Homo sapiens: one gene and its partners. The protein of the gene in region 4 interacts with the protein of the main gene of each other region in a pairwise test. Each region holds a gene or a part of one and is shown on either strand. Other genes may lie near its edges. The genes, in order: TGFBR2, GRAMD2A, CDCA7L and TRAF3IP3.

Region 1 (7,026 bases), on a different chromosome or scaffold from region 4:
TAATTCTAATCTGATGTGAAGGAATTATTTTGCCTTTCTTCAGATTCATTCTCATGACATCAAGTTCATTTGAAATTGCATAACATCTTCAGGAATTCATTGGCAGGCTGCCTGGCAGTTGGATAATCATTTAATATATCTTTCTCTCTCCTCAGTTAATAACGACATGATAGTCACTGACAACAACGGTGCAGTCAAGTTTCCACAACTGTGTAAATTTTGTGATGTGAGATTTTCCACCTGTGACAACCAGAAATCCTGCATGAGCAACTGCAGCATCACCTCCATCTGTGAGAAGCCACAGGAAGTCTGTGTGGCTGTATGGTAAGCAAGCCTTTTAAGAAGTTATTCTTTCTTTTCCCCTTTTTACATAATGTATTCTCATAGTACACACAGTCAGTGTATCTCTGTCTCCTAAATGTAAACACCTGTTCCATTTCCCTTTCCTTTAGACCATCTCTCTTTCGATTATTAAATGTAGTTTCTAGGGGTGTTCTCTGCATGTATGTGTACGTTTATGTGGGTATATAAACGTATCATGATTATAAAATGATCATGATAAATGTAAAGATCATAAAATGATCTTTAATATAATAAATCTGGAAACTCTTTCTTGTATCAAGAAGAGGGATTTGCCGCTTAGTAGTCATTTAACCGACACCTCCTCAGCACCCCATAGTGAGACCAGGAGCTTTGTTCTCTTGAGGCAATCTCAGGTCTGGAAGAAGAGGTGATGAAAGGTTGGCTGTTGGAAGAGAAAACTACCAGCCAAAAATGGGGAATCTACTTGGAGAACCACAAAAACAACCTGTTTTTTTAGTCAGAAATTCTGGTTATATTATTCATATAACCATTGGGATAGATATGACTTCTTTCTCTCAGCTCAGAACTACATATTTCTTTTTTTTTTTTGAGATGGAGTCTTGCTCTGTCATTCAGGCTAGAGTGCCATGGCACAATCTTGGCTCACCGCAACCTCCACCTCCCAGGTTCAAGCGTTTCTCTTGTCTCAGCCTTTCGAGTAGCTGGGATTACAGGTGCCCACTACCACACCTGGCTAAGTTTTGTATTTTTAGTAGAGACGGGGTTTCACCATGTTGGCCAGGCTGGTCTCGAACTCCCGACCTCAGGTGATCCACTCGCCTCTGCCTCCCAAAGTGCTGGAATTACAGGCATGAGCCACCATGCCCGACCAGAACTATATATTTTTATCGGATCACATTTTCTCCTCTCTCTCTCTCTCTCTCTCTCATTCCCTCCAACTCATACATACATCTCAAATAATAATTATACATACACAGTGGATACTCATGAATCATTTGATTAATTCATGGTTATAGATTGTGAGCATGAACAAGAAATAACCTTGATCTTTAGAAGAGTTGTAATTTTACAAAAGTACATAAATTCATTAATGAGATATGACATTTTGCAGACTTATTCTGATGTTTTTAATTTATTGGCCATTTTAAAAAAAGTAACTTATGTGTCTCCTGGCTAGTTGACAAACAAGAATATAAACCCAAATATCTCTCCCCCTTTTTTGGGAATGAGTCATTTGAGACCCCTAGACCATGTAAAGCTAGCCTTGATGATAGATCTGGAAACCTTGCAAACTTCTGTACATACCACGGGATGAACTGGTTTCTTAAGAACTGAAGGAATGTTAACAGCAAAGACTTGTCATGACATACTTGCCAATATGATATGATACCTGTCCATGTCCACTTCTAGGTAACGCTTTCAAAGAAAGGATTTGGACAAAGAATGTGTTCAGAGGAGAGGGACCAGTGTGGTTAGAGGCCTAGAAATCATGCTGTCTGAGGAATGGCCTGGGCAATTAGACATGGTTAGTACAGTGAAGAGAGATCGTGGGTTCTGCTGATGAAATTGAAAGGCTCTCAGGTAGAAAATATAATAAACATATTCTGCATAACTCTGAAGGGTAGAGGGAGGATCCATAACATTTGCAAGGCAGGCAGACTTGTGCTCAGCATAAGTTTAGACATTTTCACAATCATGGTTTCCCAACAGCAGAACAGGCTTCCTTTTCTGTAAGCACCAAGTGAAGTTCAGGAGAGGCTGGATGACCATATGTCAAATAGAATGCAGGAAAGATTGAGACACCAGACTAGATGGCCTCAAAGCTTCCTTCCGTGGTTTCTTAAATATCTACGGTGGTGTGAGCACTTGCTTTTGCAACCCAAAAAGGCTCTTTTAATTAAGATTTTTGTTTTCCTGACCAGTAATACAAGCCCAAATCATTAAATGTGAATCAAGTCTCTCTAGAATAGAGGCTTTGCTAGCCTCAAAAAAATGTGAGCATGTCGAAGAGAGGAGGCCTCCCTGTCTTTTCTGTGTCCCAGCTATAAAGGGTAAATACAATGAACATTATTTTGACCTGTGCTGGCCAAAGAAAATTCTCCCGTGAAGCCAGGGGTGTTGATAATGAGAAGGGGAAGTATAGGGTACGCTATAGTGCCCTCCTTGATCCTCCTTCATGACCAAGGCACTCATTCCCTGGGAGTGTTGGCTGTTGAAGGATCACTGCTGAGCCTTCCCTCCAGTGATGGGAGCTGCCTCATTCACGTTGGACACTTTTCATGGGTAGCCATCATCCCATGGCTAGTTGATGCAGAGAAACAAATTCCTGGTTATTTTGCCATAATGTGGTACATCTTTGAAGGACATCCCATTTTCAGAGTTTCCAAGGCATTCACTGAGGCCTTTGCTGCAACCTGCATTATAGTTTAGCTTTTTCCTTCTGTGCAATACTGTTGCCTTTAGTCGCTTACAGATGCATCTCCAAAAACCTCCTGCACAGAACTCTCACAGCCTCAAGGTCTGTTTCCAGGAAACCTAAACTAAGACAGGAGGCTATTGTAAAAATAGCCAGTGTGGAAACTGAAAGGCTCTACTATGATTGTAGATTTCAGTGTTGTTGTTTTTTTAATCAGTTTTAGTGTTTTTTCATTCATTCATTCATTCATTCATTCATTTAACTAATGTCAGTTGTGTGCCCATTCCATATAAAATGCTTAAGCTGCCTCCAAGGATAGAAATATTTTATAACCAAAATTATTATTATTATTATTTTTAAATTGAGAGGGAGTCTCCCACTGTTGCCCAGGCTGGAGTGCAATGGCGTGATCTGGGCTCACTGCAACCTCTGCCTCCCGGGTTCGTGCGATTCTCCTGCTTCAGCTTCCTGAGTAGCTGTGATTACAGGTGCACACCACCATCACGTGGCTAATTTTTTGTATTTTTAGTAGAGATGGGGTTTCACTGTGTTGGCCAGGCTGGTCTCGAACTCCTGACCTTGTGATCCGCCTGCCTCGGCCTCTGAAAGTGCTTAGATTACAGGCATGAGCCACCGTGCCCAGCCTCCAAAATTAATTTTATCATGTTGGTTCTTCTTTCAGTGGAAATTGACAACCTCTTCAGTGGCTCAGAGCAAATGTTGCAGGACAAAAAAAGAAGTCCGTATTTACTTCTTTGTATTTACCTTTCCTATGCTCAGCTATATCCAAAAAGAGTTTGAAAAGTTAGCTGTGCCTGGCTGTTACAGGAGTGAGTGGAGAAAGCAGTTAAGGGCTTTACCAGGTCTCAAGTATTACAGTTGTTTTCTCTCTGTGATGTTAGTTCTCTCAGTAGCTAAGAGGTAGAAAACCGGAGGCTCTGGAAGAGCTGCCCAATAATTATAGAGCAGCTTTCTTTCATGGCTCACAGTTCCTTCTTAGGCCTCTATAAGCGTCACAAGGAAAAGAGACCATGCCTTTCTGTGGGCACAGCATACCTTCGTTTTATTACCCAAACCAAAAACAACCTACACACACACACACACACACACACACACACACACACACACACAAAACTGTGGGGGCAGGGAGGAAGGTGTTCTTGTTCCATGACTACAGCTGATTTGAAGACTGCCAAGTAGCTTTGGGGTTAAAGATGGGTAGATTTCCAAATTATACATCATTTGTTGTATGATCATGCCAACTTTCATTTAGTTTCATTTGGTGTCCTGATAGCCACCCTCAACCAATTATTCTGCTTGTCACTCTTCCTGTCACAGCAGGGACCAACTTAGCAAAGCCTTGCTCCTCTTGTGTCTTTCGGAATTCTAGTTTAAGAACCCTTGAGCCCCTTCACAAGCAGACACATGTACCTCCACTGGAGTCAACTCTGGGCTGCATGGATGTTGACACTGGCACCATTCCTGCCTGGATTGTCCTAACCCATACCCTTGCCCTTATCCCTTTGTCAACATATTGTCCTTTAATGTCCTTGACTTAAGCACTAAAAAAGTGGTATTGGTCAAAGTTGCTCTTTCTCTCATGGGGATGGCCCCGCATCTTTTATAGGTGCAAGCTGTGTCTTAGCTGCTTCTTGCTTCTAGCCTGCCTTCCGTTTTCCTTGCTGTGAGCAGTGAGCCTTTGTGCATGGGGCAGGGAGGATTAGGGGAAAATTGGTGAGTGAGTACATGCATGCATTGGCTCATGTGTGCACTCAGAATCTTCATAGAAGATTACTCTAGCAAAACTGACTGGACCAGATTAGCCCTTCCTTCCGCTCCCTCTCTAGACAGAGAGAATGCGATTCAAGACAACAGGTATTTTGCATCTAAAAAGGACAGAGGTGAAAGGGTGGATGTCAGACTAGCCTTGTTGGACAGTCATCCAAGATAGTATGTTCATGAGGGAGCAGAGGGAGGTAGATAGAGAGGTGATACCCTTTTCCAAGAGAGCCAAAATGTTCTTTTGTTCAATTATAATAGTGGGCATTAATCATGTTGTTTAAAAATCTAATGTACACTGACGGCCAATTGAGCATTTCCTAGGGCCCAAGGAAAATGCTATGTGAGAAATTCTCTGAGCCCTGGGCTAAATTAGTCTTCAAATATGTGCTATGAAGTGATACTGTCAAAGTAGTTAGTTTATGACAGCATAAAATATTTCATTGAACTGTAAATGAAGAACACCCTGACATCCCTTTCCATTTCTTTTATTTATTTGTTTTTTTTGTTTGTTTGTTTTTTCTGAATTGCTCCTTTCTGTAATTTGGGAAAGACTGCAGTTCTTTATCTGCGATGTTTCTTCCCGTTTTTCTCAGCAGAACCAGCTGTTGACAAGGAGTATACCCTTTACACGCAATGCTCTGGGGCCCAGCAAACAAAAAAAAGAGGAACTGTGACTATTTCCCCAGGCATGCTCTTTGAAAACAGTATAGCTAGACAGGACAGATTTTGCCACTTAAACTAGGGGTGTGATGTGAGGTTTGCATTACATTCAGGATGGAAGATTTAAAATTATCCTGAGTACCTAGGAATGTTCTTTTTTTCCATGTCTTCCCCTTTAATGATTTAATTAAGACTTAAATATGTAAAGTTCTCCACCAGGACTGCCCCGTGGAACGCTGTCTGCTCCAGGTGATGTTTATAATCACAAATGGGTTCCAAGAATAAACAAAGGAAAAACAGAAAAGAGTAGAAAAGCATAGGAGACTATAGGACAGCCTGCGAATGCTGGAGAACAGGAACCAGCTGCCGTTGTTAGGAACAACTTCATGAAGGAAAAGTATTCCAGATTGCCTTTCTGTCTGGAGGCCATATTATTCATTTATTCTCTTTCTCTCTCTCCCTCTCCCCTCGCTTCCAATGAATCTCTTCACTCTAGGAGAAAGAATGACGAGAACATAACACTAGAGACAGTTTGCCATGACCCCAAGCTCCCCTACCATGACTTTATTCTGGAAGATGCTGCTTCTCCAAAGTGCATTATGAAGGAAAAAAAAAAGCCTGGTGAGACTTTCTTCATGTGTTCCTGTAGCTCTGATGAGTGCAATGACAACATCATCTTCTCAGAAGGTGAGTTTTCTTCTCTTAAGGGTGTGGGACCTGAGATCTGTGCCAATTTTTTGTATCCTTGGTCTGCAGTGTCATAGAGCACATTCCTCCTGTGGTGGATTGCATACAGTGGATTAGGAGCTCATTCAGCTGGTGGAAAGAGGGGCTTGGGGAGTAGCAGGGTTTGTTCTGGTTCTCATCAAATATGGTTGACTGGGGCAAACATTATTATTTGTCTTTGACAAATAGTTTCTTTCACCTAGAGCAGTGTTTCTCAAAGTGCGGCCTCTTGAGCAGCCAGCATCAGTATCACCTGGGAACCTGTTATAAATGCAGATTCTCAGGCCCCACTAAATGAGAAACATAGAGGGTGAACCCCAGCTATCTGTATTTTAACAAGCCCTCCCAGTAATTCTGTGCAGCTAAAATTTGGTAACTATTGTTCTAAAGATTTGGATGGGGTTGTTTAATCTTGGAGGAGGACTTTCTTTATAACTGATGTTGTTTCTTGTACATAGTCCCAGGATTTGTCTTTAGGGTACTTGTCATCGATCCCATTTGAGAGAAACATTGCAATACAGAGAGGAAATAATAAGCCAAAGTTTACCCCTAGAGCCAGGAGAAGAGTAGATTAGATACTAGCCTCCATCTTTGAAGTTCAGCGTTTACTCAGCTTGAAAGGAAGGCATACACTATTCCCTCAATTTTTAATAAGAAGAGAATTCAGTGGTTTTTAATTACAAAAGTAGTATATGCTCGTCATCAAAAATTTCAAACAATCCAACAGTGTGTGAAAATTAAAAATGAAAGTACATTTTCGTCCTCCCCTCACTCCCAATGCAACAGATCATCTGTATTGACAATGTATTAGATGCACACACGTCTCTATCATTCATTCATATTATCTCCCACTCCATCCTCTCTCCCAATCTCTCCCTGTCTTCCTTTCTCTTTCCCTCCTTTCATCCATCTGTCCATCCTTCCATCCACTCATCCATCTTTCAGTACAACTATCTGATCATACTATAAATATTATTTTGCAACACTTTTTTATACCCAACCACTTTTACAATTCCTTCTAAACAAGATAGAACACATAGATATACTGTACATCTTTTAATTTAGTCTCGAATTTCATATTATCTCCCACGATGGATCTTATCATGTCCCTGTTGATG
Region 2 (7,026 bases), on a different chromosome or scaffold from region 4:
AGGCCCACAGGGGTATCAGGCCATGAGAGCCAACAGAAGCTCTGCCTAGGAACTTCTCTTCCAGCTTGTTGTACGGCCTGAAATACCTACTGGAGAGCTGCAGGGTGGGGTGAAATAAAGACCTGGGAATGTGCCCGAGTCAGACTGTGGGCTGTCAGGGCTGGGAGCGGGAGACTGACAAGGGAGCATGGGCCCAGTGCACTGACCTTCTGGCTGGTGTTGGTGGTGATGGCCAGTCCATTGGGAAGGAGCCGTGCCATCTTGTGTTTTTTGATCATTTGCACAGACACCACAGGAATGACCACCTGAGAGGGAGAGGGATGCTTCTCTCAGGACTAACCCCCAAGGACGTGGTCCCTTTGCTCCCTGCCTAGGGACCCAGCTGTGAGCCCAGCATGGCCACCATGGGGAAGCCTGGCCCCATGTGGGGAAGTCTCTGAACCTTCTACCTTTTCATCCAGGCTCCCCTTCCAGTTGTCCCTGCCACCCTGCCCCAGCCTTGGCAGGATGTGTCACTCTTGGCTGTCACATAGGTATGATCCCTGTTATCCAGGAGGCCAAGGATGGTGGCTCTGGTAAATCTCATACTCTAGTAATGGAGCTCCCCAGGCTACTTCTTGGCCACAGCTAGGGCTCCGCCTAAATGTGATATCCCACTCTGATTCTCAAAGCATTTCTGAAATACCCAGAGGCAGAATGATTTGGCTGTGAACTGTTCAGGCCAGCTCAGGCCAGATGTGGGGTCCAGATTGGGCCCCTGTTTTTGAAGGGGCAGGACTACTTTCCTGGACACTGGATGGGATGCCTCGAAGCTGCGCATCCAACCAGCAAGGGGCTTCACCCGGGGCCCAGCACGCAGAGAGATAGGCATGACTTTGAGGCATGCCCGTGGGGCAGGAGGCTGGCTCCCCTCACAGGGTCATGGCAGCCCTCACCACTCATTACTACCTTGATATCCTTGCCAAAGAGGCTGGCATGGAAGCAGAGCCAGTTGGGGGAGATGTAGAGCCGGCCCTGGAGGAGGAAGTCCCTCTGGAGGGCACAGGAACACACTAGGATGTCACAGGAGAGAAAATGGCCATAAGCAAGGTCAGCCCAGGAAGCCCCAGGACCTGGGTCCTCACGTTCTGGAGTCCACAGTCCAGCCTCAGGACCTGTCTTCCTCAGACTCCCCCTTCCCCACCGCAGGCCCCAAACCCCAAACAGTCCATTCCCCAGCGTCGAAGGGTCCTTCTCCTGACTGCTCCTCCACTCCACCAGCCTGCTGGATGTTTCTTCCTTCTCCACCCTTGCTCCAGAGGGTCCAGGCAAGTTCCTGCCCTGATCTCCAAGCCTGCATTCTCACCACCTCAGGCAGAATCCCTGACCTTTCCCTGCTCTGCTCTGCCCCAAGGGCCTTGATTGTGCAAATGCCCCCACCTGCTCAGTGAGAGGCCAGAGCAGGTAAGAAGTCACCAGTAAGAGCAGGACACAAGATTCCAAAGCCCTGACGTTTCCCCAAGAAAACCTTCAAAAATGCAATGCTATGTCCAAACCAGCCCAGTCTTCTCACCAGCCCAGTCTTCTCACATTCTAGGGGAGTGGTCCACATCTAAAGGACAGCCAGTTCCCATTTCTAAGTCGTGCTTTGGAGGCTCCAGAGCAGAGGCCCCTGGCCCCAGGCACTCTGGGTGCCTAACCAGCTATACCGGGAGACAGCTCACCTTTGAGAACCACTTCCTCCAAGGGAACATCCTTAAACAGCTTGTGGTATTGCTGGTTGTATTTATTCAGTGTTATCTGCAAACACACAGGCTGCGTCTGAGAAGCGCTGGGAGATGAGACCGCCAAAGGGGCCCTGCTCCAGCCAACAGGAAATGCCACAGCCCCCCGGCCCATGCTGGGGACTTAGCATGAGGCAGCTAGTAAGCAGCCAGTGAGTATGGAGGGCTGTGTGCCAAGCACAGCTTGTCTCCTGGTGCTGCTAGGTCCTGACAGGCAGCTTGTACTAGCAGAGGGGGACACACTACTCCCACCCAGGAAGGGATACACACTCAGGTCTCCTGATTTCCTGATGACAGGCCCGGTGGCCAAGGAGCCAAAAGTCACTGAATTCTGGCAGCCCAGGACCCCTTCCTGGGTGAATAGTGAGAAGTCAGCCTCCAGACTTACCCCTTCTCGGCCACACTTCTTTATCTCTTCACCCTTCAAGCCTTCTGGCCAGTGCAGACTGCAAAGGAGACATTCCATTTCGGGAACAAGGAACCCCAGTCCTGCCCATGCATCCTCAGTGCCAATTCTGCCCTGGCCTTGAGCCAGAAGCTTGAGGCAGAGATCAGAGACTAGGACCCTTCTCTAGGGGACACAGCAAAATGACAAGTACAGCGAGCACACAGCTAAACTATACAGCTCATCCCTGGGGGAGGGCACTGCGGGAGGTAGAGAGGGGTCGCCAAGGGCCCACCTTCCCCAGTGCGGGTGAGCAGCATCTCCTGGAGGTGCGCCTGGTCTCCCAGAGATGCTGAGGAGCTTCCCACCTGGGTGTCAAAGACCCTGTCCCATTTCTCTGGCCAAGGGGTAAGCAGGGGAGCAGGCAGTGCTGGAATAGGGACAGTTTGGGGTGTGGGTGAGGTGAAGGTGTCAGACTCACAGCGCCGGGGCCTGGCCACAGGCCATGATGCCAGCAGGACTGCCCTCCCTGCCGCCTCCTTCCTGTGGCCTGAGCTCTGCTGCGGGGAGCTTGGCACAGACTCACCTGACCTGGCTGAGGCTACCACACTGGGAGAGGGGGATGGCACTGAGAAAAAAAGGTAAACCTTTGCCTTGGCCAGGTTGGCCCAGAGCACAGGTGAGCAGGGAGGAGGCTGGAAACCCGAGAAGCATGGACTCTGCTAGGTCCCAGTGCACTGGGACAGTCTTGAGGGGCGGGAGGAAGAAGCCTGGGGCAGCCTGTGCCTGACCTCACAGACCTGCAAAGGGGCCCCGGCTCTGCCTTGAGGTCCTCTTACAAACAGGTCACTTCCTGAGGGCTTCCCACCCTCTAGTCTGTGTGTATCTATGACTGGGAAAGGGGTCCTCACCTGTAGTCCGGGGGCTCCTCAACTCTGTCTGGTTTCTCTTTGCAGGACACAGGACTGTTCAGAGAAGCTGTCTTTCTGTGCATTTGTTGGTTGCTAGGGAAAAACAGGCCCATATCAGGAAGGGGGCTTCATGAGGACACCTTTCCCTAACAGCCCCACCATGCCCATGGCCGCTGCCTCTGGCCCCCACCCAAGACTGGCCCTGATATTGAGGGTGACACTGAAAATGTCACAGTTCAGAGGCAGCAGCGCAGGCAGAGGTTCTGGGATGGCTGACGGAGTAGGCGGGTCTCACACAGCGTCTTTCCCGAAAGCCAGAAGTTCTGCTTATGCCTAGGCTGGGAGGAAAATCAACCTGTCTACCTCATCTCCAGTGCCAGGCAGCTCGTAGGCCAGGCTGAGTGAGGCCTCTAGCCCCACCCTTGAGGAGGCACACTGAGAGGGAGGACCCTGAGACTCGCTTATGCCGAGAACAAAAGTGTCCAAAGTACCCGCGCAGCATGACTGTAAACCATCAGGTTCCGGGAAAGTAGGCTGAGCACAGGAGGCCTTATCAAAGCTCAGGAGCTGATGCGCTGAAGGTGTGGGAGGTGGACGCCCATCAGCCTACAGGTGAGTGTGGCCAGGAGGGGAGGAGCCGTCTTATACCAGGAAGTGGCCTCAGCCACCTTGGACAGTCAGGACAGCTTGATGATGAGAGCCAAACCATCTCAAAAATGTCCCTGAGGGAGAGCGTAGGAGGGAACAGATCCTCTCTCCCTGGGCAGGTCGGGCTCTCCAATGGCCTTTGAGTTCCTGCCTCCACTAATCGCTCCAAAGAATCATTACCCTGTTCCTGCTCCTCCAGGCTACACATCAATAAAGCCTGAGCCGTCAAGCCAGCCCCAACCAAGTGGGCCCAGGGGCTGACCAAGAAAGAGAGGGTGGCCAAGAAGCAGGGCCGTGCTGGGGCAGTGTGGTGGTCAGGAACAGGTAACAAGGTCACGTGCAGTGGTCCTGCTGCAGATTAGGAGCTGGAGCCTGGAACCTACAAATCTCAATGCTCAGTCACCCTCCGCTCTGTGACTGAGGCCAGCCAAAGTTCTCTTCTTCAAGAACAGAGTTTTCGCCTCAGCCCAAGATCTGCCAGGACCCTCAGAGATTGATTCAGCCTCACCCGCTCCCACCATACCATTGTACAGATTATGAAACTGAGACCTGCCAAGGGACAGGCTGTGTCCGGTCCTACAGTGAACAGCCAGTGACCTCACCCACAAAATCAGCCCAGCCATGGCCATGTGGCCTGGTTACCTCTGTCCTCAACCTTAGAGAGGATTTTGCCACACATATCAACATATACCTACAACAGTCTTGTGAAGTGACAGATTTTGCTAGAGATTTGACTCTCAAAGTTGATTTCTGGATTTATTTGGTTCCATCATGTCACATTTCACAGAGGTTTTTTTTTTTCCCTTGATTTTTAAAGATTATAGAAAATATGAAAAATATATATAAGATCAAAATCACCTAAAGATTCCCCAAAAATCACCCAAATAAAAAATGTATGATAAACATATAACCTATGTAAATGGTTATATAATCTATAATTTGTATACCCTACTTCTGTGGCTTAACCTGATTTCATGAGAAATTTCCCATGTCACTCACTGTCCATTCCTAAGATAGATTCTCAGAAGTGAAATTAGTGGATTGAGAATGAACAGATGCTGTTCCAGTTAACCCAGCCATCAGCACGACATGAAGGTGCCTGTTTCCCCATATTCATGCCCTTCTCTGGATATTGTCTCTCGCTCACCTTTGCAAATCTGATAGGTGAAAATACGTTGTCTTCATTTGTATTTCTGCTTACTGGTAGGTTGAACAGTTTTTTCCAAATAATTATTAACCACTGGAAGTTCATTGTCTTATAGAGAATTCACAGGTGAAATTCTTTCTTCATTTGTATTGAAGTTCTTTCTTCATTTGTATAAATTTTTTCTGGCTTTTTTATTTTTTTTTTTTGAGATGGAGTCTCTCTCTGTCGCCCAGGCTGGAGTCCAGTGGCGTGATCTTGGCTCACTGAAACCTCCACCTCCTGGGTTCCAGCAATTCTCCTGCCTCAGCCTCCCAAGTAGCTGGGACTACAGGCGTGTGTCACTGTGCCTAATTTTTGTATTTTTTAGTAGAGACGGGGGTTTCACCATATTGGCCAAGCTAGTCTCGAACTCCTGACCTTATAATCCCCCTGCCTTGGCCTCCCAGAGTGCTGGGATTACAGGCATGAGCCACCACGCCCGGCCTTTTTTTTTTTGAGACAGGGTTTCACTCTGTCGCCCAGGCTACAGTACAGTGGCGCAATCTTGGTTCACTGCAGCCTCAGCCTCCCGAGCTCATGTGATCCTCCCACCTCAGCTTCCCAAGTAGCTGGGACTACAGGAATGCTCCACCATGCCGGGCTAAGGTTTTCATTTTTTTTGTAGACAGCGGGGGTCTCACTGTGTTGTCCAGGCTGGTCCTAAACTCCTGAGCTCAATCGTCCCACCTCAGCTTCCCAAAGTGCTGGGATTACAGGTGTGAGCCACCATGCCTAGCCTTTTTTTTTTTTTTTGGAGACAGAGTCTTGCTCTGTCACCCAAGCTGGAGTGCAGTGGTGTGATCTCAGCTCACTGCAACCTCCGCCTCCCAGGTTCAAGTGATTCTCATGCCTCAGCCTCCCGAGTAGCTGGGATTACAGGTACCTGCCATCACATCTGGCTAATTTATTTATATATATATAAATTTTTTAGCAGAGATGGGGTTTCATCATGTTGACCAGTCTGGTCTTGAACTCCTGATCTCAGGTGATTCACCTGCCTTGGCCTCTCCAAAGTGCTGGGATTACAGGTGTGAGCCACCATACCTGGCCTGTAAATTCTTTATTGAGAACGTTAATCCTTAGTTTATCATTTTTGTGATGTTTTCCCCAGTTTGTCGTTTCTCTTTTGTCTGTGGTATTTCTGCTGTGCCTGTGTGTAATTACTGCATGGGAGATTCCATCTATTTCTTCCATGTATGTTTCTCGCTTGGTCTCAGTCCTCTCACAGGACAGGCCTGGGGGGAGTAGATATGCAAGTCAGACCACTGAGCCATTACAGCGTGGGCCTGGCAGTGAATCCATGGGGCCGCCAGGGAAAAATTCTGTGGGCTCAGCTCTGAAGAACCTGCATCCCAGACTGAAGGATGGATGAGGGATAGAACGGGATGACAATGGGAAGGAGCTTGGACAGTGCTTTCAGAGGCAGGGAGCCTGTTGCTTGAGAATGTGAGTCAAATTCTCAGGACTGCAGGAGCTCAGAGGATGCACAGATCCCTGGGAACTGAAATACAGTGGGGTTCCTAGAGAAAAGGAAGCTGAGCCTTAGAAACTGGGTATAATTATAATCTTGCATGGATTATCTAATCTTGCATAGATAACCATGTCTTTGCATGGATTCTAAACCAAACACATCCTTAGGTTCAAATGTGACTGTCTCAGGGAGAGAAGCCTTCCCTCAGCCCTCCCCCAGCCTAGGTGAGTAGTCCCTGCTTCAGATACTCACTCACAGCACCCTGATCGGAAGTCTCTGCTCAGCATCTGTCACACTGTGTCTGTGTGCCATGACTGTGCATCTCCAGGGGCTCACAGACTCTGCCTGGTCCTTCATTGAATCCCCTGAGTCCAGTGCTGAGCATGCAGCAGGCGCTCACGACAACTCCAGGGAGGAGCTTTCCTGCCTTCAGACCAGGCTCAGCCACCAAACCCGGCCAACTTTCAAGTCTCTTTAAATTAAAAGCCAACTCCTGGCCAGGTGTAGTGGCTTATGCCTGTAAGCCCAGCACTTTGGGAGGCTGAGGCAGGTGGATCACCTGAGGTCAGGAGTTCAAGACCAGCCTGGCCAACATGGTGAAACCCGATCTCTACTAAAAATATATAAATTAGCTGGGCATGGTGGCGGGCATCTGTAATCCC
Region 3 (7,026 bases), on a different chromosome or scaffold from region 4:
GCAGCAGAAGCAGCTGTTCTGTTTCTTAATGCCCGGTGCCTGCCAGGCTCTGTGCTCGGCCCTTTAGACATGTTCTGCCTTGCTCAAATGCTCCTCAAGGTGGATCCAACAGGCTCTGCTCTCCCCACCGCCTGACTGTGCTCAGATGGAGGGCTAAGGGAGGAGCTGACCGGAGGTCAATCCTATAACAGATCCTAGTAGGAAGGGATGAGCATTCGGGTAAGAGCTACGAGGGCTACGGCAGCTGCAGAGGGAAGGGAAGGATGGACACCAGGAACACAGCAGAAGTTTCATCAACTCCTGGACGGGAGTCAAGGAGATGGAAGAGGGGAGGGAAGGCCAAGAACAAAAGATGGAAATCAAGATGGGGAAAGGGGGAAGCCAGAAAGACAACCAAGGGAAGGAGAAGTGAGTTTCAGATCTCCCTTAGCAACCAGGACCAGTCCAACTGGTAGTCAGAAACCACCTGGGGCTGGAGAGAGAAGACAAGCTCCACAAAAGAATACAGTAACAGCTCAAAGCAGGACAACAGACAAGATTCACTAAGTGAGAAGACTGAAGACAAACCCTTAGAGAACATCTGCATTTAGGGACACGAACAGGGAAAACAAGTGACAGTAACAAAAAGCAGGCCAGGTACAGTGGCTCACGCCTCTAATTCCAGCACTTTCGGAGGCCAAGGCGGGCAGATCACCTGAGGTCGGGAGTTTGAGACCAGCCTGGCCAATATGGCAAAACCCCATCACTACTAAAAAAAAAAAAAAAAAAAAAAAACACACACACACACACAAATTAGCCAGGCGTGGTGGTGGGAGCCTGTAATCCCAGCTACTCGGGAGGCTGAGGCTGGGAAAATTGCTTGAACCCGGGAGGCAGAAGTTGCAGTGAGCCAAGATCATGCCACTGCACTCCAGCCTGGGTGACACAATGATACTCCATCTTGGAAAGAAAGAAAATAATAATAACAAAGAGCAAAAGGTGTAACAGAGAGGAAGAAACCCAGGTGGTTAGAAGGAGGTCTACTGGTGGGGTCAACTGCTGTGGAGATGCCAAATGAGATGAGGACGACAGAGACCAGGGAGCCTCCAGAGATCTCAGAAAGCACAGCTCCCACCAGGCCAGAACTTACAGTGGCCCACGTAATTAAGCAGGCACTTCACTTACATATAATTAACTGCTTCCCTTCCTGGACTTGCCCAGTGGAAGCAAAGTGGGTTTAATTTGCTGCCTTTTTGGAGAGGCCATGGTCAAGGCAGAATGAGGAATTTTGAGTGCCACAATTAACTCAGAAGAAAATGCCACTGAAGGGTAGAGATTTTGGCCATTCTACTACTAGGACACAATGTGAACCTCCAGGAATCTACCTGTCAGAGAACTCTAACTTGTGAGTGCTAGAGATCAAAGTAATTAACGCAAGAATAAGGCTCTCCCCAGCAATTCCAAGAGGACATGCCAACAGAATTGCACCACGGGACCACAGAGGTGTAATTGTCTCCCCGTAACCACACAATCCCTCATGCCTCGCCGCAGCCTCGCCTCTGTGGGAAGACCCTGAACACAGCCTCGCCACAGGTTACAGCCCCAAGGCAGCCAAGAAAATGCACTTGATCATGTGAGGTCCCTTTATTTAAAAAAAAAAAAAAAAAAAAAAAAGAATTATGGTACAGGGAAGGATTAACACAGCAAAGTGAACGAGGTTCTCTCACCAGTTTTTTAAAACAGGAAGACACAGACATAATGTTTCTAAAATAAAATGCTAGACAATGAACTGATATCACCAATCTCACACCATGTTCAAATAAAAGAACATCCAAACCAAGATTCAGGCCTCCAGATGAACACATCTGCTTGGAAGGAATCATCCATACCTGTTTCCCTGACTCTAGTGAGTCAAAACTATCGCAGCTCTCCTCTGACGAGAGGGTTTCCATGGGAACATCATCTCGGAAGCCAACAAACTCTTCATCATCACTGGGGGCGTTAAAGATGTCAGCCACTTCTTTAGGGATCTGTTTTGGATTCAAAAGAGGCAGGATTAAACCAGGGGTTCTTGCTAATCACTTAGGGACATTTTCTGGAGGGGAGGAGAGATCTCATCACTTCATCCAACTGCCACGGTTGCCCAGAAGTCCCCAGTAACCCTCAGCAAAACACTCTTCAGCTAAGAACTCATGGCAAAATAAGGTGTGGGGTGGGTGGGGGAGATAAAACTTAAAATTCTAGATATACACCCTATTTTACAGAGAATGTTAAAACCAGGCCAGAGAGAAGACATGTTTGATCTCTTGACAAAAAGAAAAATTGTTTCTAAGAACCAATGATCTCTTTTTTCTCCTACAGTGGATGCATCTTTAAATGTCATCTACATAAAAAAGATGCCATAAAATATCATTAAGCACTTTTCTTAATGTTCACCTACACTATTTATTTTTCTCTTCTTTGTCATAGGCTGATTCAGAAAGTAGAAAGTTCATACAATGAAATAAGTAGCTTTTCTTCTTTTCTATATTGTAAGTCAACTTAAGTAGCTGGGGATTAATTCTAACAGAATTCAAATGCTATTAGGGGATAATTGATCCCAGAGAGAACAATGTCAGCACACTTAATCCACAAATATGTATCTGCTGGAGTTCATTTTTGTAAGTTGACTATTTTCTCCCAATTCTTTGTTTTAAAAAAGTTCAAACACACAGAAATGTGAAAAAATAGTACAAACACCTGTTGATTCTTTATCTAGACCCATTATTGGTCACTGCATTTGCTTTCTTTCTCTGTTTCAACAAATATTAGGTTGAACCATGGGCATTTGCTGATATTTGGCTGTTTTTAACTTAGGAAAATAGCAATTTAATATGAGCCAACCTAATCCATATATTCCCACACATTGATTAAAGTAATTTGCAAACATTGTATTGATTGGCCCGAATATAATTCAGCACATATCTCCCACGGATAAGGACATTCTCCCATAGAACCACAAAACCATAATTGTACCGAAAATAATTAACATTAATTCAATAGTACGATTTACTGTAACTCTATATTTTAATATCTGCAACTGTTCTATTTGATTTTTATGACACTGTTTTTTGTTGTTTTTCACAACACTGACTTTCTTTTTAGATAGACCATGACAACTGCCTTGTAGAATGTCATGTATTCTGAGCTTATCTGAGTGTTTCCTCATGATTAGATTCAGGTTATGTATTTTTGTCACCATTCTACATAGGTGACATGTACTCCTCAATGCATTGCATAAGGGGGCACAAAATGTCAAGTTATCCCACTATTAATTAGTAATTTTTAAAAAATTTTTCATTATAAAAACTTTCAAAGATATTTCAAAAGTAGATGGGAAGATATTGTAATGAGCACACATTGATCCTCCCCGTAATTATCTGCCCAAGGCTAACTGTGCTTCCCCTGGATCCCGACCCAACTCCCCTTCTTCTAAATTATTGTGAGGCAACTGTAGACATAGTATCATGTCACTCTGTATCATCATCAAATGTGCAGTCTGTATTCACAGTTCTTCTGCCTCATTTTTTAAAAACTTAGTTTATCTGCATCATGATCCAAATAAGGTTCACACTGATCAACATGGCTCTTAAATCCCTTCTCATCACTCCTTTATCTCTTTTCTCTTGCAGTTTATTTTTGAAGAAGCTGGGTCACTTGACTGTGGAGTCTGTCCAAGTCTGAAGTTTTATTTTTTTTGCATCCCCAAGGTGGTGTTTAACAGACTCATTTGGGTTTACAATTTGGGAGTTGAATCCGGAGGCTTTACTTCTAGTTGGCTTGCTTTTGCCAAGACTACTTTTTAGGAAGTGCTATGTTCTTCCTTTGGAAAGCACATAAGGTCTGGCTGTCTCTTTTTTTAGTGATGTTGCTGTTTGGTCAATAAGTTAAGGTGGAATCAGCCTGATTTGTTCTTCGCTTTTAAAACAAAACAAAACAAAAAACAATAACAACAACAAAAAACACCCTTTCTCCTTTGTCACTAATAAGGAATATGCAGAGTGAGACTTGAGATTCTGTGAATAGCCTCCCTGATAACATCTTGCTCAACAGTTTCAGCGTCCATTGACAATTCTTTTTTTTTATATTTTTTATTTTAATAAAGACAGGGTCTATGTTACCCAGGCTGGTCTCAAATTCCTTGCCTCAAGTGATCCTCTCACCTCAGCCTCCCAAAGTGCTGGGATTACAGGCATGAGCCAGGGCACCCTTGAATGAATTATTACATTAGGGACTGCAAAAGAGAAATTTTCAGATTTTCTCTCTCCTTCACAAAGTAGCTGGCATTCTTGTATAATATAGTCTTTCTCTCACTCTCCCCCTTTTCTTCTACCATGTATATCCATGGATTTCTAAAAATTATTATTAAATGTGTTATAATCCATACTCTCATAATGCTGACTGTCCCAAATTTGGCCATTGGGAGCTTCTTGGAAAGTCATCCTCTGTCTTTCTGACATGGCACTAAGGGTCTTTCAACACCTCCTTGCTTTCTGACACAAGCATGGCAAGCTAACCTTGTATGTTTCCTGTCCCAGACCTCAAATCAGCCATTTCTCCAAGGAGCCCTGAAACCTTTCACTGGGAAATGGCATTTAAAAACCAAGCTCGGAGAACACAATGCATCTCGGTTAATTAAGTATCACTGCTTGTAGGCTCTTTGGACAGAGCAAGGATATTTTAAATAGGTAAATCACAAGTTCATGGTGACACCCTGAATTCAAATCCAACACGGAGGCTTCTTCCTCTGCTCCCTCATCTCTCCCTCATCTCACATTAGCATCGCCGTTCCACCACAAGGAAAACCCTCGATTCCCAAAATTTTTAATATACTTATCCATGTGGTGCTCTATCTACAATAAACACAAAATAGCGCCAAACTGACGCCACCAATATACTACCAACAACAAACAGTGCAGTTCAAGATTTCTTTGCAGTTCTTTCTAGCCCTGGAACATAGTCTCACTATACACAGGATCTTTTCCTTCAGCTAACCAGATGATCATTGTACATGGTTATGCAAAAATGTTTCACATGTACTTCCCATTTCATCATGCAGTATATTAAAAAGATGTCCTTAACAGTTGAGACTTAATAATTTTTACTGTTTCATCAGAACATTCTTATGTGAAACTGACATTTTCTTTTTAAATTGAGTGCATGGAGGTGAATGCAATGACTACTAATACAGTTTGTTGCTACCACCTGGATTCATGCTAAAGATCAGCAGTTTTCTCCACTTTGGCTTTTGCACAATCAGTGCAAATATCAACACAGCAAAAAGGGCAAATAATCTTAGTATTATTATGACATTACATTCGCCCTCATGGACCCGTGAAAGGGTCTCAGGTCCTCCATCTCACACTTTGACCACTGCACTAGCATATACAGAGTTGTGTATTCAAAAGCTACTTAGCTTCGTGGAATTCTCTGTGTGGGTGTGTTGACTTAATTTTACATTTAGTCAGGTTCCATTTAGGAAACTGGTAATCCTTAATCTATTTACTTTCATCCTTATTTTAATGCTTCTTGATTAAAAATAATTAGAAAATAATGGTTCAATCAAAGGAAGTGTAACATAAATACAGAAATGGGATACCCCAAGTTCAGTGATGCTGAAGGGTTAATACAAACACTTTCCCACCATCTAATAAAATCACTGCAAGGGACAAACAAGAACAACACTTACAGAAGTAGAGTTCCACTAACAATTTTTTTACCAGCCACACGTAGTGCAGCACTAGCAAAGCCTAACTCTGACATCATTCTTGGGGAAAATATTGAAACTTTTCTCAAGGAGGTATGTTAAACAATGTTTGCCACCTTATCTTTTCAAAGACACCTTTTGTTGTTGTTTAGCACTCAGAACTAATACGCAAGGAAAACACCCAGACTAGAGAAACACAGACAATACTTATGAAAGTGTGCCTATGTTGTAGCTACATAATAGCCACTGAGTTCAGTCCCTGCAGAGGCACTAAGAGGGACAGTGTGTCAATTTCAGTCTTTTTCTTTTGGCCTTCTCACCATTCTACAAAATTCAAACAGCCCTGCTGGCCCAGAAGCTTCTTTTAACATAAATGGTTTAAAGGAGGAGGAGCACCCCATTTATGGATTTAATGGAAATACATACAAGGAATGGAGAGGGTTGGTGATAGGAATAAACTGCTTCCAGCAGCAACTGCATTAGTCCCTGTGCTATTGTGTTCAGCCCCACCACTGCTGCGAGCCTGTGTCTGACTAGCTAATTCCTCCTTCTGCATCTTTGACTTCTGCATCTGCTCCAGAGGTACCATTAGGGGGCTATAATTACTGATTAGGAACAAAAGGAAAGAGCACACTTTCAAAAAAACGGTGTGCATTCCTGGGGTACGCAGGGCTCTGATCCTTCAAAAGGTATTAAAAGAGTTTCAGATAGTCACAAGCTTCAAGATTTGCCAAAAAAAAAAAAAAAACTGTAAAATATTCAAGTGTCCTCAATGCAACGAACTGATTTGTCTAACAGATGCAACAAAGGCAGCAAGATTTATATGAGAAGGACCTGATAGAAAGGATACACAGGGACCTCTTCTAATGAATGACCAGTTCCACAACACAGTGATACATTAGGCCCAAGGATCTGTCACTTTCCTGTTCCATTCAGCAGCGATCCACTGGGTAGCTGCATAGTCTAGACAAAAATGCAAGACCTTTTTTTTTTTTTTTCAAAGTTTGTGTTCCATTCTATTACAATAAAGCCAATCATAAGACTCACCAAAAAGAAAACTACAACAAGTAACTGAAAACAACAAAAATACAAAATTTCTCAATCAATGGATATTTACATTAGTTGAACTTCTGAATTAGGATAACTACTATCTAGTGAACCAAAAAAAAAAGGGAAAATTCTCATCTGAAAGTGAAAAGACCGTTTCATTATTTATAATACTTGTTAAAAATCGACAACTTCATGCTATTCCTTTCATGTACAGTTTCTGTTTGTCTACTCTGTCTTTATTGGAATTAACA
Region 4 (7,207 bases):
CAAGCACATGAATTGTACCTCAATAAGGCTGCTGCAAACAGAAAAGAAACAAAACAAAGACAGTAATCAGAAGTTTCCAGGGAGCCAGGCTTGGTGTAGGGGCCACAGGATGACCCTCTGCATGGCCTTACCTGATATTCACATAGCACCTAGACCTGAATCCCCTTTTCCTTCTCTGTGCCTTTCTCTTTCCTACTCTTCCCCACCTACCTTCTGTAGTTTATCCTCCTAGAACCCTCTGGTCACTTTGCTGAGTTGGGCTGGATTTGGATGAGCTGGATCCTGAGCGTTGGAAATTCTGTGTCCTGCCTCCTCTGATCACTGGAGTCAGACCAGGGACTGATGAAGGAAGAGGGACTCCCCCTCACAGCTGCTGCTGCTTCTCTTCCTCCCACGACCTCATTACCCACCACCCTGGGAGGAGGGTATCTCAGCTTCACCAACTAGCAGGCATTTGCTAGCTCTAACCCCTTGGGGTTTATTTATAGGCCAAACAGACTCAACAGGTAGCAGACTCTCTGCCCCTTTACTGGGACTTCGCTACTCTGGCTCAGTCTGGAATTCTCTGCAGGATTCTTGTTTTCTCTCTGATCCTACCACTCATTCCCCAGGGTCATGGGTGGGGCAGTCTTCTTCCCTGAGAGGAGTTTTGTGTGGTCAAGCCCTGGACACTCAAATGCCTGACTCTTGAGGGTTGGAGGGGCATACTCTGGTGTCAGGCAGCATTGATTCCAAGCAGAAATGTGAGGTTATTAATGTTTGTCCTCTACATACCCATTCTGAATGGCTCTCTTCTTTGTTTTTCCTTACTTCTTCTTCTCGGATAAGGGTGGGAGTGGGCATAGGGGGTGGTCCCTTGACTTCTTCCCTGCCACTTTCTTTATTTAAAGACTTAAAAGAAAGGGTCTGAGAGACCCATGTCTATTGTTATAAATGACTGAATGGAGGAGACGCAGGATTATGTGCATGTGAACTCCATGTCTAGAACCTACACTCACAGCATCCCTGAGCCACAGCCCCTGGCTATTCTGCCATGGATTGCAGTGGAGAACCCTGGCTCTTGGAGTCACACTGCGTGGACTCATGTCCTGGCTCTGTCACCTACAACCTGTGTGTGTTTTTAGATAAGCTATTAAACATCTCTAAGCCCCAGTCTCCTCATTTATAAAATGGGGCTAGGACCTGCCTTGTAGGTTATAAGGATTAAATGACAAAATGCAGGCCATGCACCTGGCATGGAGCACACAATAAATGTTACCTTTTAATAATAAAGACATAAAGTATTCCTATTAGGTTGGTGCAAAAGTAATTGCGAATATTATCCTTGTTATGCCGATGTTGGATATTGAAGACTTGGTGCTGTAAGACAAAGGCTCCAAGCTAAACTAGCACTTCTAGGACCAAGAATGCCTTCTCTCATCCTCTCAACCCTCTCTCTCTTTGACAGAGTATATTGTTTACCAGATTGAGGGGATGCTGGCCCCAGGCTGAAGTCACATTTACTTCTGACCTCTGGGTTTGGGCTATAAGGAGAAAGGCTTCTCTGTGGTCTGGACATAATTGCCATCCCAATTACACCAAGCCGAAAGGTAAGGAAGAGATGGGGTCTGCCTGTGTCACACATAAGGTGTGAGGTCCCCTCCCTGTTTGGCTCAGCTTCCCCACAGGTTTTGTAGTGGAGGCAGAACATTGAGAATCCTCCTACCTTCTTGCCGCGAAGAGGAAAGGGCTGTGGGGGAGAAGACAGTGCCTGAGATGAGGTCTCTCTGGGCTCTCCACCCAGGCCACCAACCTTAGTCCACTGAAACACACAGCTGCTCTGCTCTCTGCTTCCTTGGGGCAGACATGGAGCCTTCTTACCCAAGAAAGGAGCTGCAGTGGAAATGGCTCCTTAGAGAGGGGAGTGTTCCCAGATGCCTTGGCTACCACACCTGCTAGGATTTGGTGCAGCATGCTGCATAGAACCCTACCCAGGTTTCTGGGATATCTGGACCCTACTGACTTGCTTGAAAACAAGAAGGTATGTGGGACGGCTGACAGGGGTAGGCTGCTAAAGAAAAGGGAACTGGTCCCTGTAGGGTTCAAAGAAAGATCACTTGGCCACTGCCCAGGCTTTCTGGCATCTCTCAGGTTCCCCCCTGGCAGCATGACTGGGCTCACTTAGAGCTTGGAGGAAGAAGGTTTACTGGCTGGGAAGGCTCAGCCTGGTCTCTCAGGCTGCAGAGAGAGAACAGGGCATGGCTCCTCACCTGACTGTGGCTTGACATGCCTTTCTGAGTCTCGCTTTTACTTCCTGGCCATGTTTGTAATGGAGACAATGAATGGCTTCCTGCATGGGTTGGCCTTCCTGGCCCAGAGCTCTCAGTGTGAACTGAGGGGAGAGGGGCCTGCGCTTAAGCTGCTGGGAAGGCAGTCTTGTGTTCAGGGATCCCTGCTTTGAAGAAAACTGTAAAAGGTCATTTAATTCATGCCCATATCACTGGGTAGCCTGAACTCTAAGTCGTTTGACTCACTCCTAATCTAATGTAATCTAATCTACTGGAACAGAGGAGTGGTGCAAGCTGTACCCTGTGCCATGGCTAGCGCCACAGGAAACCAATACAGGATACTTTCTTGGTTACCCAAACCCCTGACACCCTTAAACTATGCCACCCACTCTCCACCCAGGGGAGCTGGGATGGTAGAGCATCTTCTGCCCTACCCCGAAGTTGGAGTTCCCAAACCTGGACACAAAAGCATCCTCCTTCTCAGTTACCTCCTAGTCCCAGGCTCCAACTCAAGCCACTCGGGAAAGCATTCCAGTCCTGGGCAGATCTTGGCTCTGGTCTCAGATGGAGCAAGACAGCAGATGGGTAAAGCACACGCTTTCAATCCATAGGTCTGGGCCCCATTAACACGTCCCTTCTTGGTACCGTCTTTCTTTTTGCACAGCAGCCTTGCTGAAACAGGAAACAGACAAAGCCACAAGGTTCGCAAACCCCAGTTCCTCTCTCTTGCTCTCTGGTATCATCTAAGTGGGCCCCTGAACTCTGAGGCCTCCAGGGCTGGGCTCAGGAGCTCCTCCCATCAGTAGGCACCCCGGCCACCCTTTCTCTTGCTACTGGATTGGTCGGAGCTCTTGGACAGTTTCAAGTCAAGATTCCTTTCCATGATTAGAAAAGGATAGTCCTCTGGGTCAGATTCAGACCTTTGTGGTTTCTATGAGAGGGAAAAAAATGCCTTTTTGGTGGTAAGACCTAGATGAGATGTTCTCAGTGTAGGCTTTCATGTGTATCAGGTAGTTCTTTGTGTAAGGATTTTCCTTTTTCTTTAGCCACCTCTTCCCAATCCTGGTGTTGTAAAGAGTTTCTGCTCTTCTGAAGTAGGTGGTGTCTTTCTCAGATTCTGGAATGAGACCAACTCTGGATTTGCTCCTTTCTGGAGCAATGAGGAGGGAGTGTAAAGGTGGGTAGCTGGGGGATGAAGGAAGGAATAGAAGGCAGAGTCTTCTACACATTTTTTTATCTGGTCAACCGGACTAGGAAATTTAGGGAAAAACTAAAGGGAACTGATTTGCATGCATTAAGATGAAGCCATCACAAATGATGCAGCCAGGAAATTCCCAAGAAGTTCAGGCTAAAATAGTGGAGAGGAAACTGGATTGGGACAAGTTAACTGAGCAGCTTTGTAACCTTGTAAAATTCACCTTGTCTGGATGCTACTCACTGTGGTAGTTGGGTGATGTATGTGGCTCTTTGGAATTCTAAGGTTTGACACATGTGAGGCAGGTAATGAGACTTAAAAATAGCTGTGATAACATTTATTAACATGTGGAGAGTTTGTCACCATTTTCTCTGCTTCTGCTTCTTTCTCTGTTCTTTGAGGAGAAAAAGGACAAGGAATCGGCAGGGAAAAGCAGAGGATGGATTCTCAAGCACTAGGACTGAAGACAAGTGGCATTTACTCAGGATGAGAGACAACAGCTCAAGGCCCTGTGTCTGGAGCTTGACACATAGAGATGGGAATGAGTAGAGGACAGAGGGCTTGGGGAGCCCAAGATGTCAGAAAAAGAGAATTTTGGCCGGGCACAGTGGCTCACACCTGTAATCCCAGCACTTTGGGAGGTCCAGGTGGGTGGATCACTTGAGGTCAAGAGTTCAAGACTAGCCTGGCCAACATGGTGAAACCCCATCTCTACCAAAAATATAAAAAATTAGCCGGATGTCATGGCATGTGCCTGTAAACCCAGCTACTTGGGAGGCTGAGGCACAAGAATCGCTTGAACCTGGGAGGCAGAGGTTGCAGTGAGCCAAGAATGTGCCACTGCACTCTAGCCTGGGCGACAGAGTGAGACGGAGTTTCACTCTTGTTGCCTAAGCTGGAGTGCAATTGCGCGATCTCGGTTCACTGCAACCTCCGCCTCCCAGGTTCAAGCAATTCTCCTGCCTCAGCCTCCTGAGTAGCTGGGATTACAGGCATACGCCACCATGCCTGGATAATTTTTTGTATTTAGTAGAAATGGGGTTTCAACCATGTTAGTCAGGCTGGACTCAAACTACTGACCTCAGGTGATCCACCTGCCTCGGCCTCCCAAAGTGCTGCGATCACAGGCATGAGCCACCACGCCTGGCCAGAGAATTTTTATTGGCATAGAAGAGTGAGAAGATTCTGGGAGTTCAGGGCATTAGAGCGTAAAGAAAGACAGGAGATTTTAATAGGAGTTCCTATAGAGACCTACTATTTGGACTCCATTAAACATCAGAAAGAAATGTCTACAAAGTCCGCAGTCATTGGGATACTAATCCCATGATAACTGGGATTTAGAGTGGTCAATGATATGCTCAAGATCACACAGAAAGTGTTGGACCCAGGTTTGCTTGACAGTAGGTTTGAGCCCTTAACATTGTGTTCTGAGAACAAAACAATTAATAAGGTTGTCATACCTATCTATCTATATTGAAAAAGACACACACACACACACAGAACTTTGAGAATAGAAAATATACCTTATTTTCAAATGCCCACGAGACATTAAAAAAATTGACCATATGGATCAAAAAGTAAACCTCAGTATATGTTTTGAAAAGTTGATCTATTATGGCAGGATTTTCTGACCACAGTACAATACAATTGAAATAAATAACAAAAGATGGAAGAAAGAAACACTTTAACTTCTTGGAAAAAAATTCTTCCCATTTACTCTGAAAAGATAGAGGGAATTTCAAATCTGCAATTAAGAATGCATTGAAAACGGTGATAGTGGCAACATTATGAGGAAAATCTGTGAGGTATGGCCAAGCAGAATGCAAGGAAAATTCCTAGCTTTAAACATTTTCATTACCTAAATCAAGAAGATTAAAAATAAATTTCCTATTCATTTATTTTCAAATGAATTGCTAAAAAATGATCAGAAAAAAAGGAGGTGAGAATTTTGAAATGATAAAAGGAGAATATATAATAAGTTAGAATCCTGTTTAAAATTGATAAAAAAAATTCAGTTTTGTGTGTGCATCTGGCAGGGGGAGGAATGGTAGACATACAAATAGAAAACAAAATCAATAAAATAAAATATCAGCGAGCCAAATCAATTTAAAAAAGAGAAAAGACATTATAAAAGTTTAGGAATGATACATGGAAAGTAGCCACGATACGGTGGAAATTAATTATAGAGAGTCATTTGTGTAACTATGCTAATGATTTTTAAAATCTAGATAAAATGGATTTAAGAAAATGAATTTACCAAATTAAGCTCAAGTAGAGATTTGTAGTGTAATCATCAGCTGGCCTCCAATAGAGGGTTTAATTCAGGCTGCTCTTGAGCTGGGCACCAGGCTTTTAGTGGCCAGTATCCTTTGCTTCTCCTCATCATTTCCAGGTTCAATGGGAACAACGGCTCCCTTTTTTGATGGTCATATTCTGAAACAGTTTCCTTGATAGATGCTGGGCCCTGTGTAGTCCCCCATGAGGCGATGAGTATGGGGTAAGCTACCCTTTCCTTTATAGCCTGGTTGCTTCACAATACCACACAAGCATGTGTAAGATTATCAGATTTTATTGTACAGTTGGGGTAACTAAACTATATGCTAATATGACTTCTCCCATACTCCAAGAGACAGCACTAAGGAGTTAAAAAAATTTTTTTTTTCTTGAGATGGAGTTTCGCTCTGTTGCCCAAGCTGGAGTGCAGTGGCATGATCTCAGCTCACTGCAACCTCTGCCTCCCGGGTGCCTCAGCCTCTGGAGTAGCTGGGATTATAGGCATGCACCACCACGTCTGGCTAATTTTTTGTATTTTTAGTAGAGACGGGGTTTTGCAATGTTGGCCCGGCTGGTCTCGAACTCCTGACCTTAAGTGATCCACCTGCCTTAGCCTCCCAAAGTACTAGGATTACAGGCATGAGCCACCATGAAGTTAAACACTTTATGGGGGTCCCCTCATGGGTGTTACCAGTTCTAATCCCACTCCTCTTTCCACTCTACAGGGTGACTCCTACCTATCTTCTGGGAAATGGCAACCTCATTCATAAGAGTTGTTCTTGCCTTAGAATCCTTCCCTACACTCCTGACAAGGTTTCTTCAGCACCGCATTCCTCAAGTCTAAGTTATTCATTCTAGAATAGTGCTGCAGACACTCTTAATAGGATAGTCCACAGCGGCCTTGGCACTCCAAATTTTGCAGAACAGCTCAGGGCAGGCATACTTAAGTCTGTTCGCATTCAAGTTCAAGTTCTCCTTATCAGGTGACTTGCAGACTCTCCTCCTTAGTTTTCCAAGTGTCTAGCTGGTAACTGTTTACTCAGATGTCCACACAAACATCCCAAAGACAAATATTCATTCTCAGAGATGATACAGTCTAAACTCACCAGGAGGAAGACAAGTATTTCCTTGACTCCTACGTTTGCAAGGTTGCTGCTCTGTCGAGTTATGACTGTACATTTGTGGCAGGACAGAGTTCTAAGTCCTCCTCTTGTCTTTGCTTGCTTTGTATCATCATTGTTGGTAGAGAGCCTTTTCGTGTAATGAAACCTCAAATTTATGCTGTAAGAGACTTTCAATATTAGCAAGAGATTTATCTGTTGTTTAGATTCTAAGAATCTGAAAGGCCTAACCATAAGGCTCAAATAACTGTGGATCCGTTCTTGTGGGTCCAGCATTGAGCAAGGGACAAGTTACTTTTTGTTGTAGGCTCATAAGAAAGGTGGTCTCACTGGCTGTGACATTGAAGGGC

The links.
Region 1: the proteins of TRAF3IP3 (region 4) and TGFBR2 interact in binary tests that used the Homo sapiens proteins (3 or more experiments, as listed by UniProt).
Region 2: the proteins of TRAF3IP3 (region 4) and GRAMD2A interact in binary tests that used the Homo sapiens proteins (3 or more experiments, as listed by UniProt).
Region 3: the proteins of TRAF3IP3 (region 4) and CDCA7L interact in binary tests that used the Homo sapiens proteins (3 or more experiments, as listed by UniProt).

What each region holds. Positions count from the first base shown.
Region 1 is NC_000003.12:30,644,592-30,651,617, forward strand, and holds part of TGFBR2 (TGF-beta receptor type-2 isoform B precursor), read left to right. Parts: intron 1-155; coding exon 156-324; intron 325-5,678; coding exon 5,679-5,869; intron 5,870-7,026. UniProt on the Homo sapiens protein: Transmembrane serine/threonine kinase forming with the TGF-beta type I serine/threonine kinase receptor, TGFBR1, the non-promiscuous receptor for the TGF-beta cytokines TGFB1, TGFB2 and TGFB3.
Region 2 is NC_000015.10:72,166,788-72,173,813, forward strand, and holds part of GRAMD2A (GRAM domain-containing protein 2A), read right to left. Parts: intron 4,615-7,026; exon of another isoform or gene 3,153-4,614; coding exon 3,060-3,152; intron 2,210-3,059; coding exon 2,152-2,209; intron 1,780-2,151; coding exon 1,704-1,779; intron 1,053-1,703; coding exon 949-1,052; intron 306-948; coding exon 207-305; intron 1-206. UniProt on the Homo sapiens protein: Participates in the organization of endoplasmic reticulum-plasma membrane contact sites (EPCS) with pleiotropic functions including STIM1 recruitment and calcium homeostasis.
Region 3 is NC_000007.14:21,914,886-21,921,911, forward strand, and holds part of CDCA7L (cell division cycle-associated 7-like protein), read right to left. Parts: intron 2,010-7,026; coding exon 1,869-2,009; intron 1-1,868. UniProt on the Homo sapiens protein: Plays a role in transcriptional regulation as a repressor that inhibits monoamine oxidase A (MAOA) activity and gene expression by binding to the promoter.
Region 4 is NC_000001.11:209,751,858-209,759,064, reverse strand, and holds the start of TRAF3IP3 (TRAF3-interacting JNK-activating modulator), read right to left. Parts: upstream 3,013-7,207; 5' UTR 2,756-3,012; intron 568-2,755; exon of another isoform or gene 211-567; intron 32-210; 5' UTR 1-31. UniProt on the Homo sapiens protein: Adapter protein that plays essential roles in both innate and adaptive immunity. Plays a crucial role in the regulation of thymocyte development.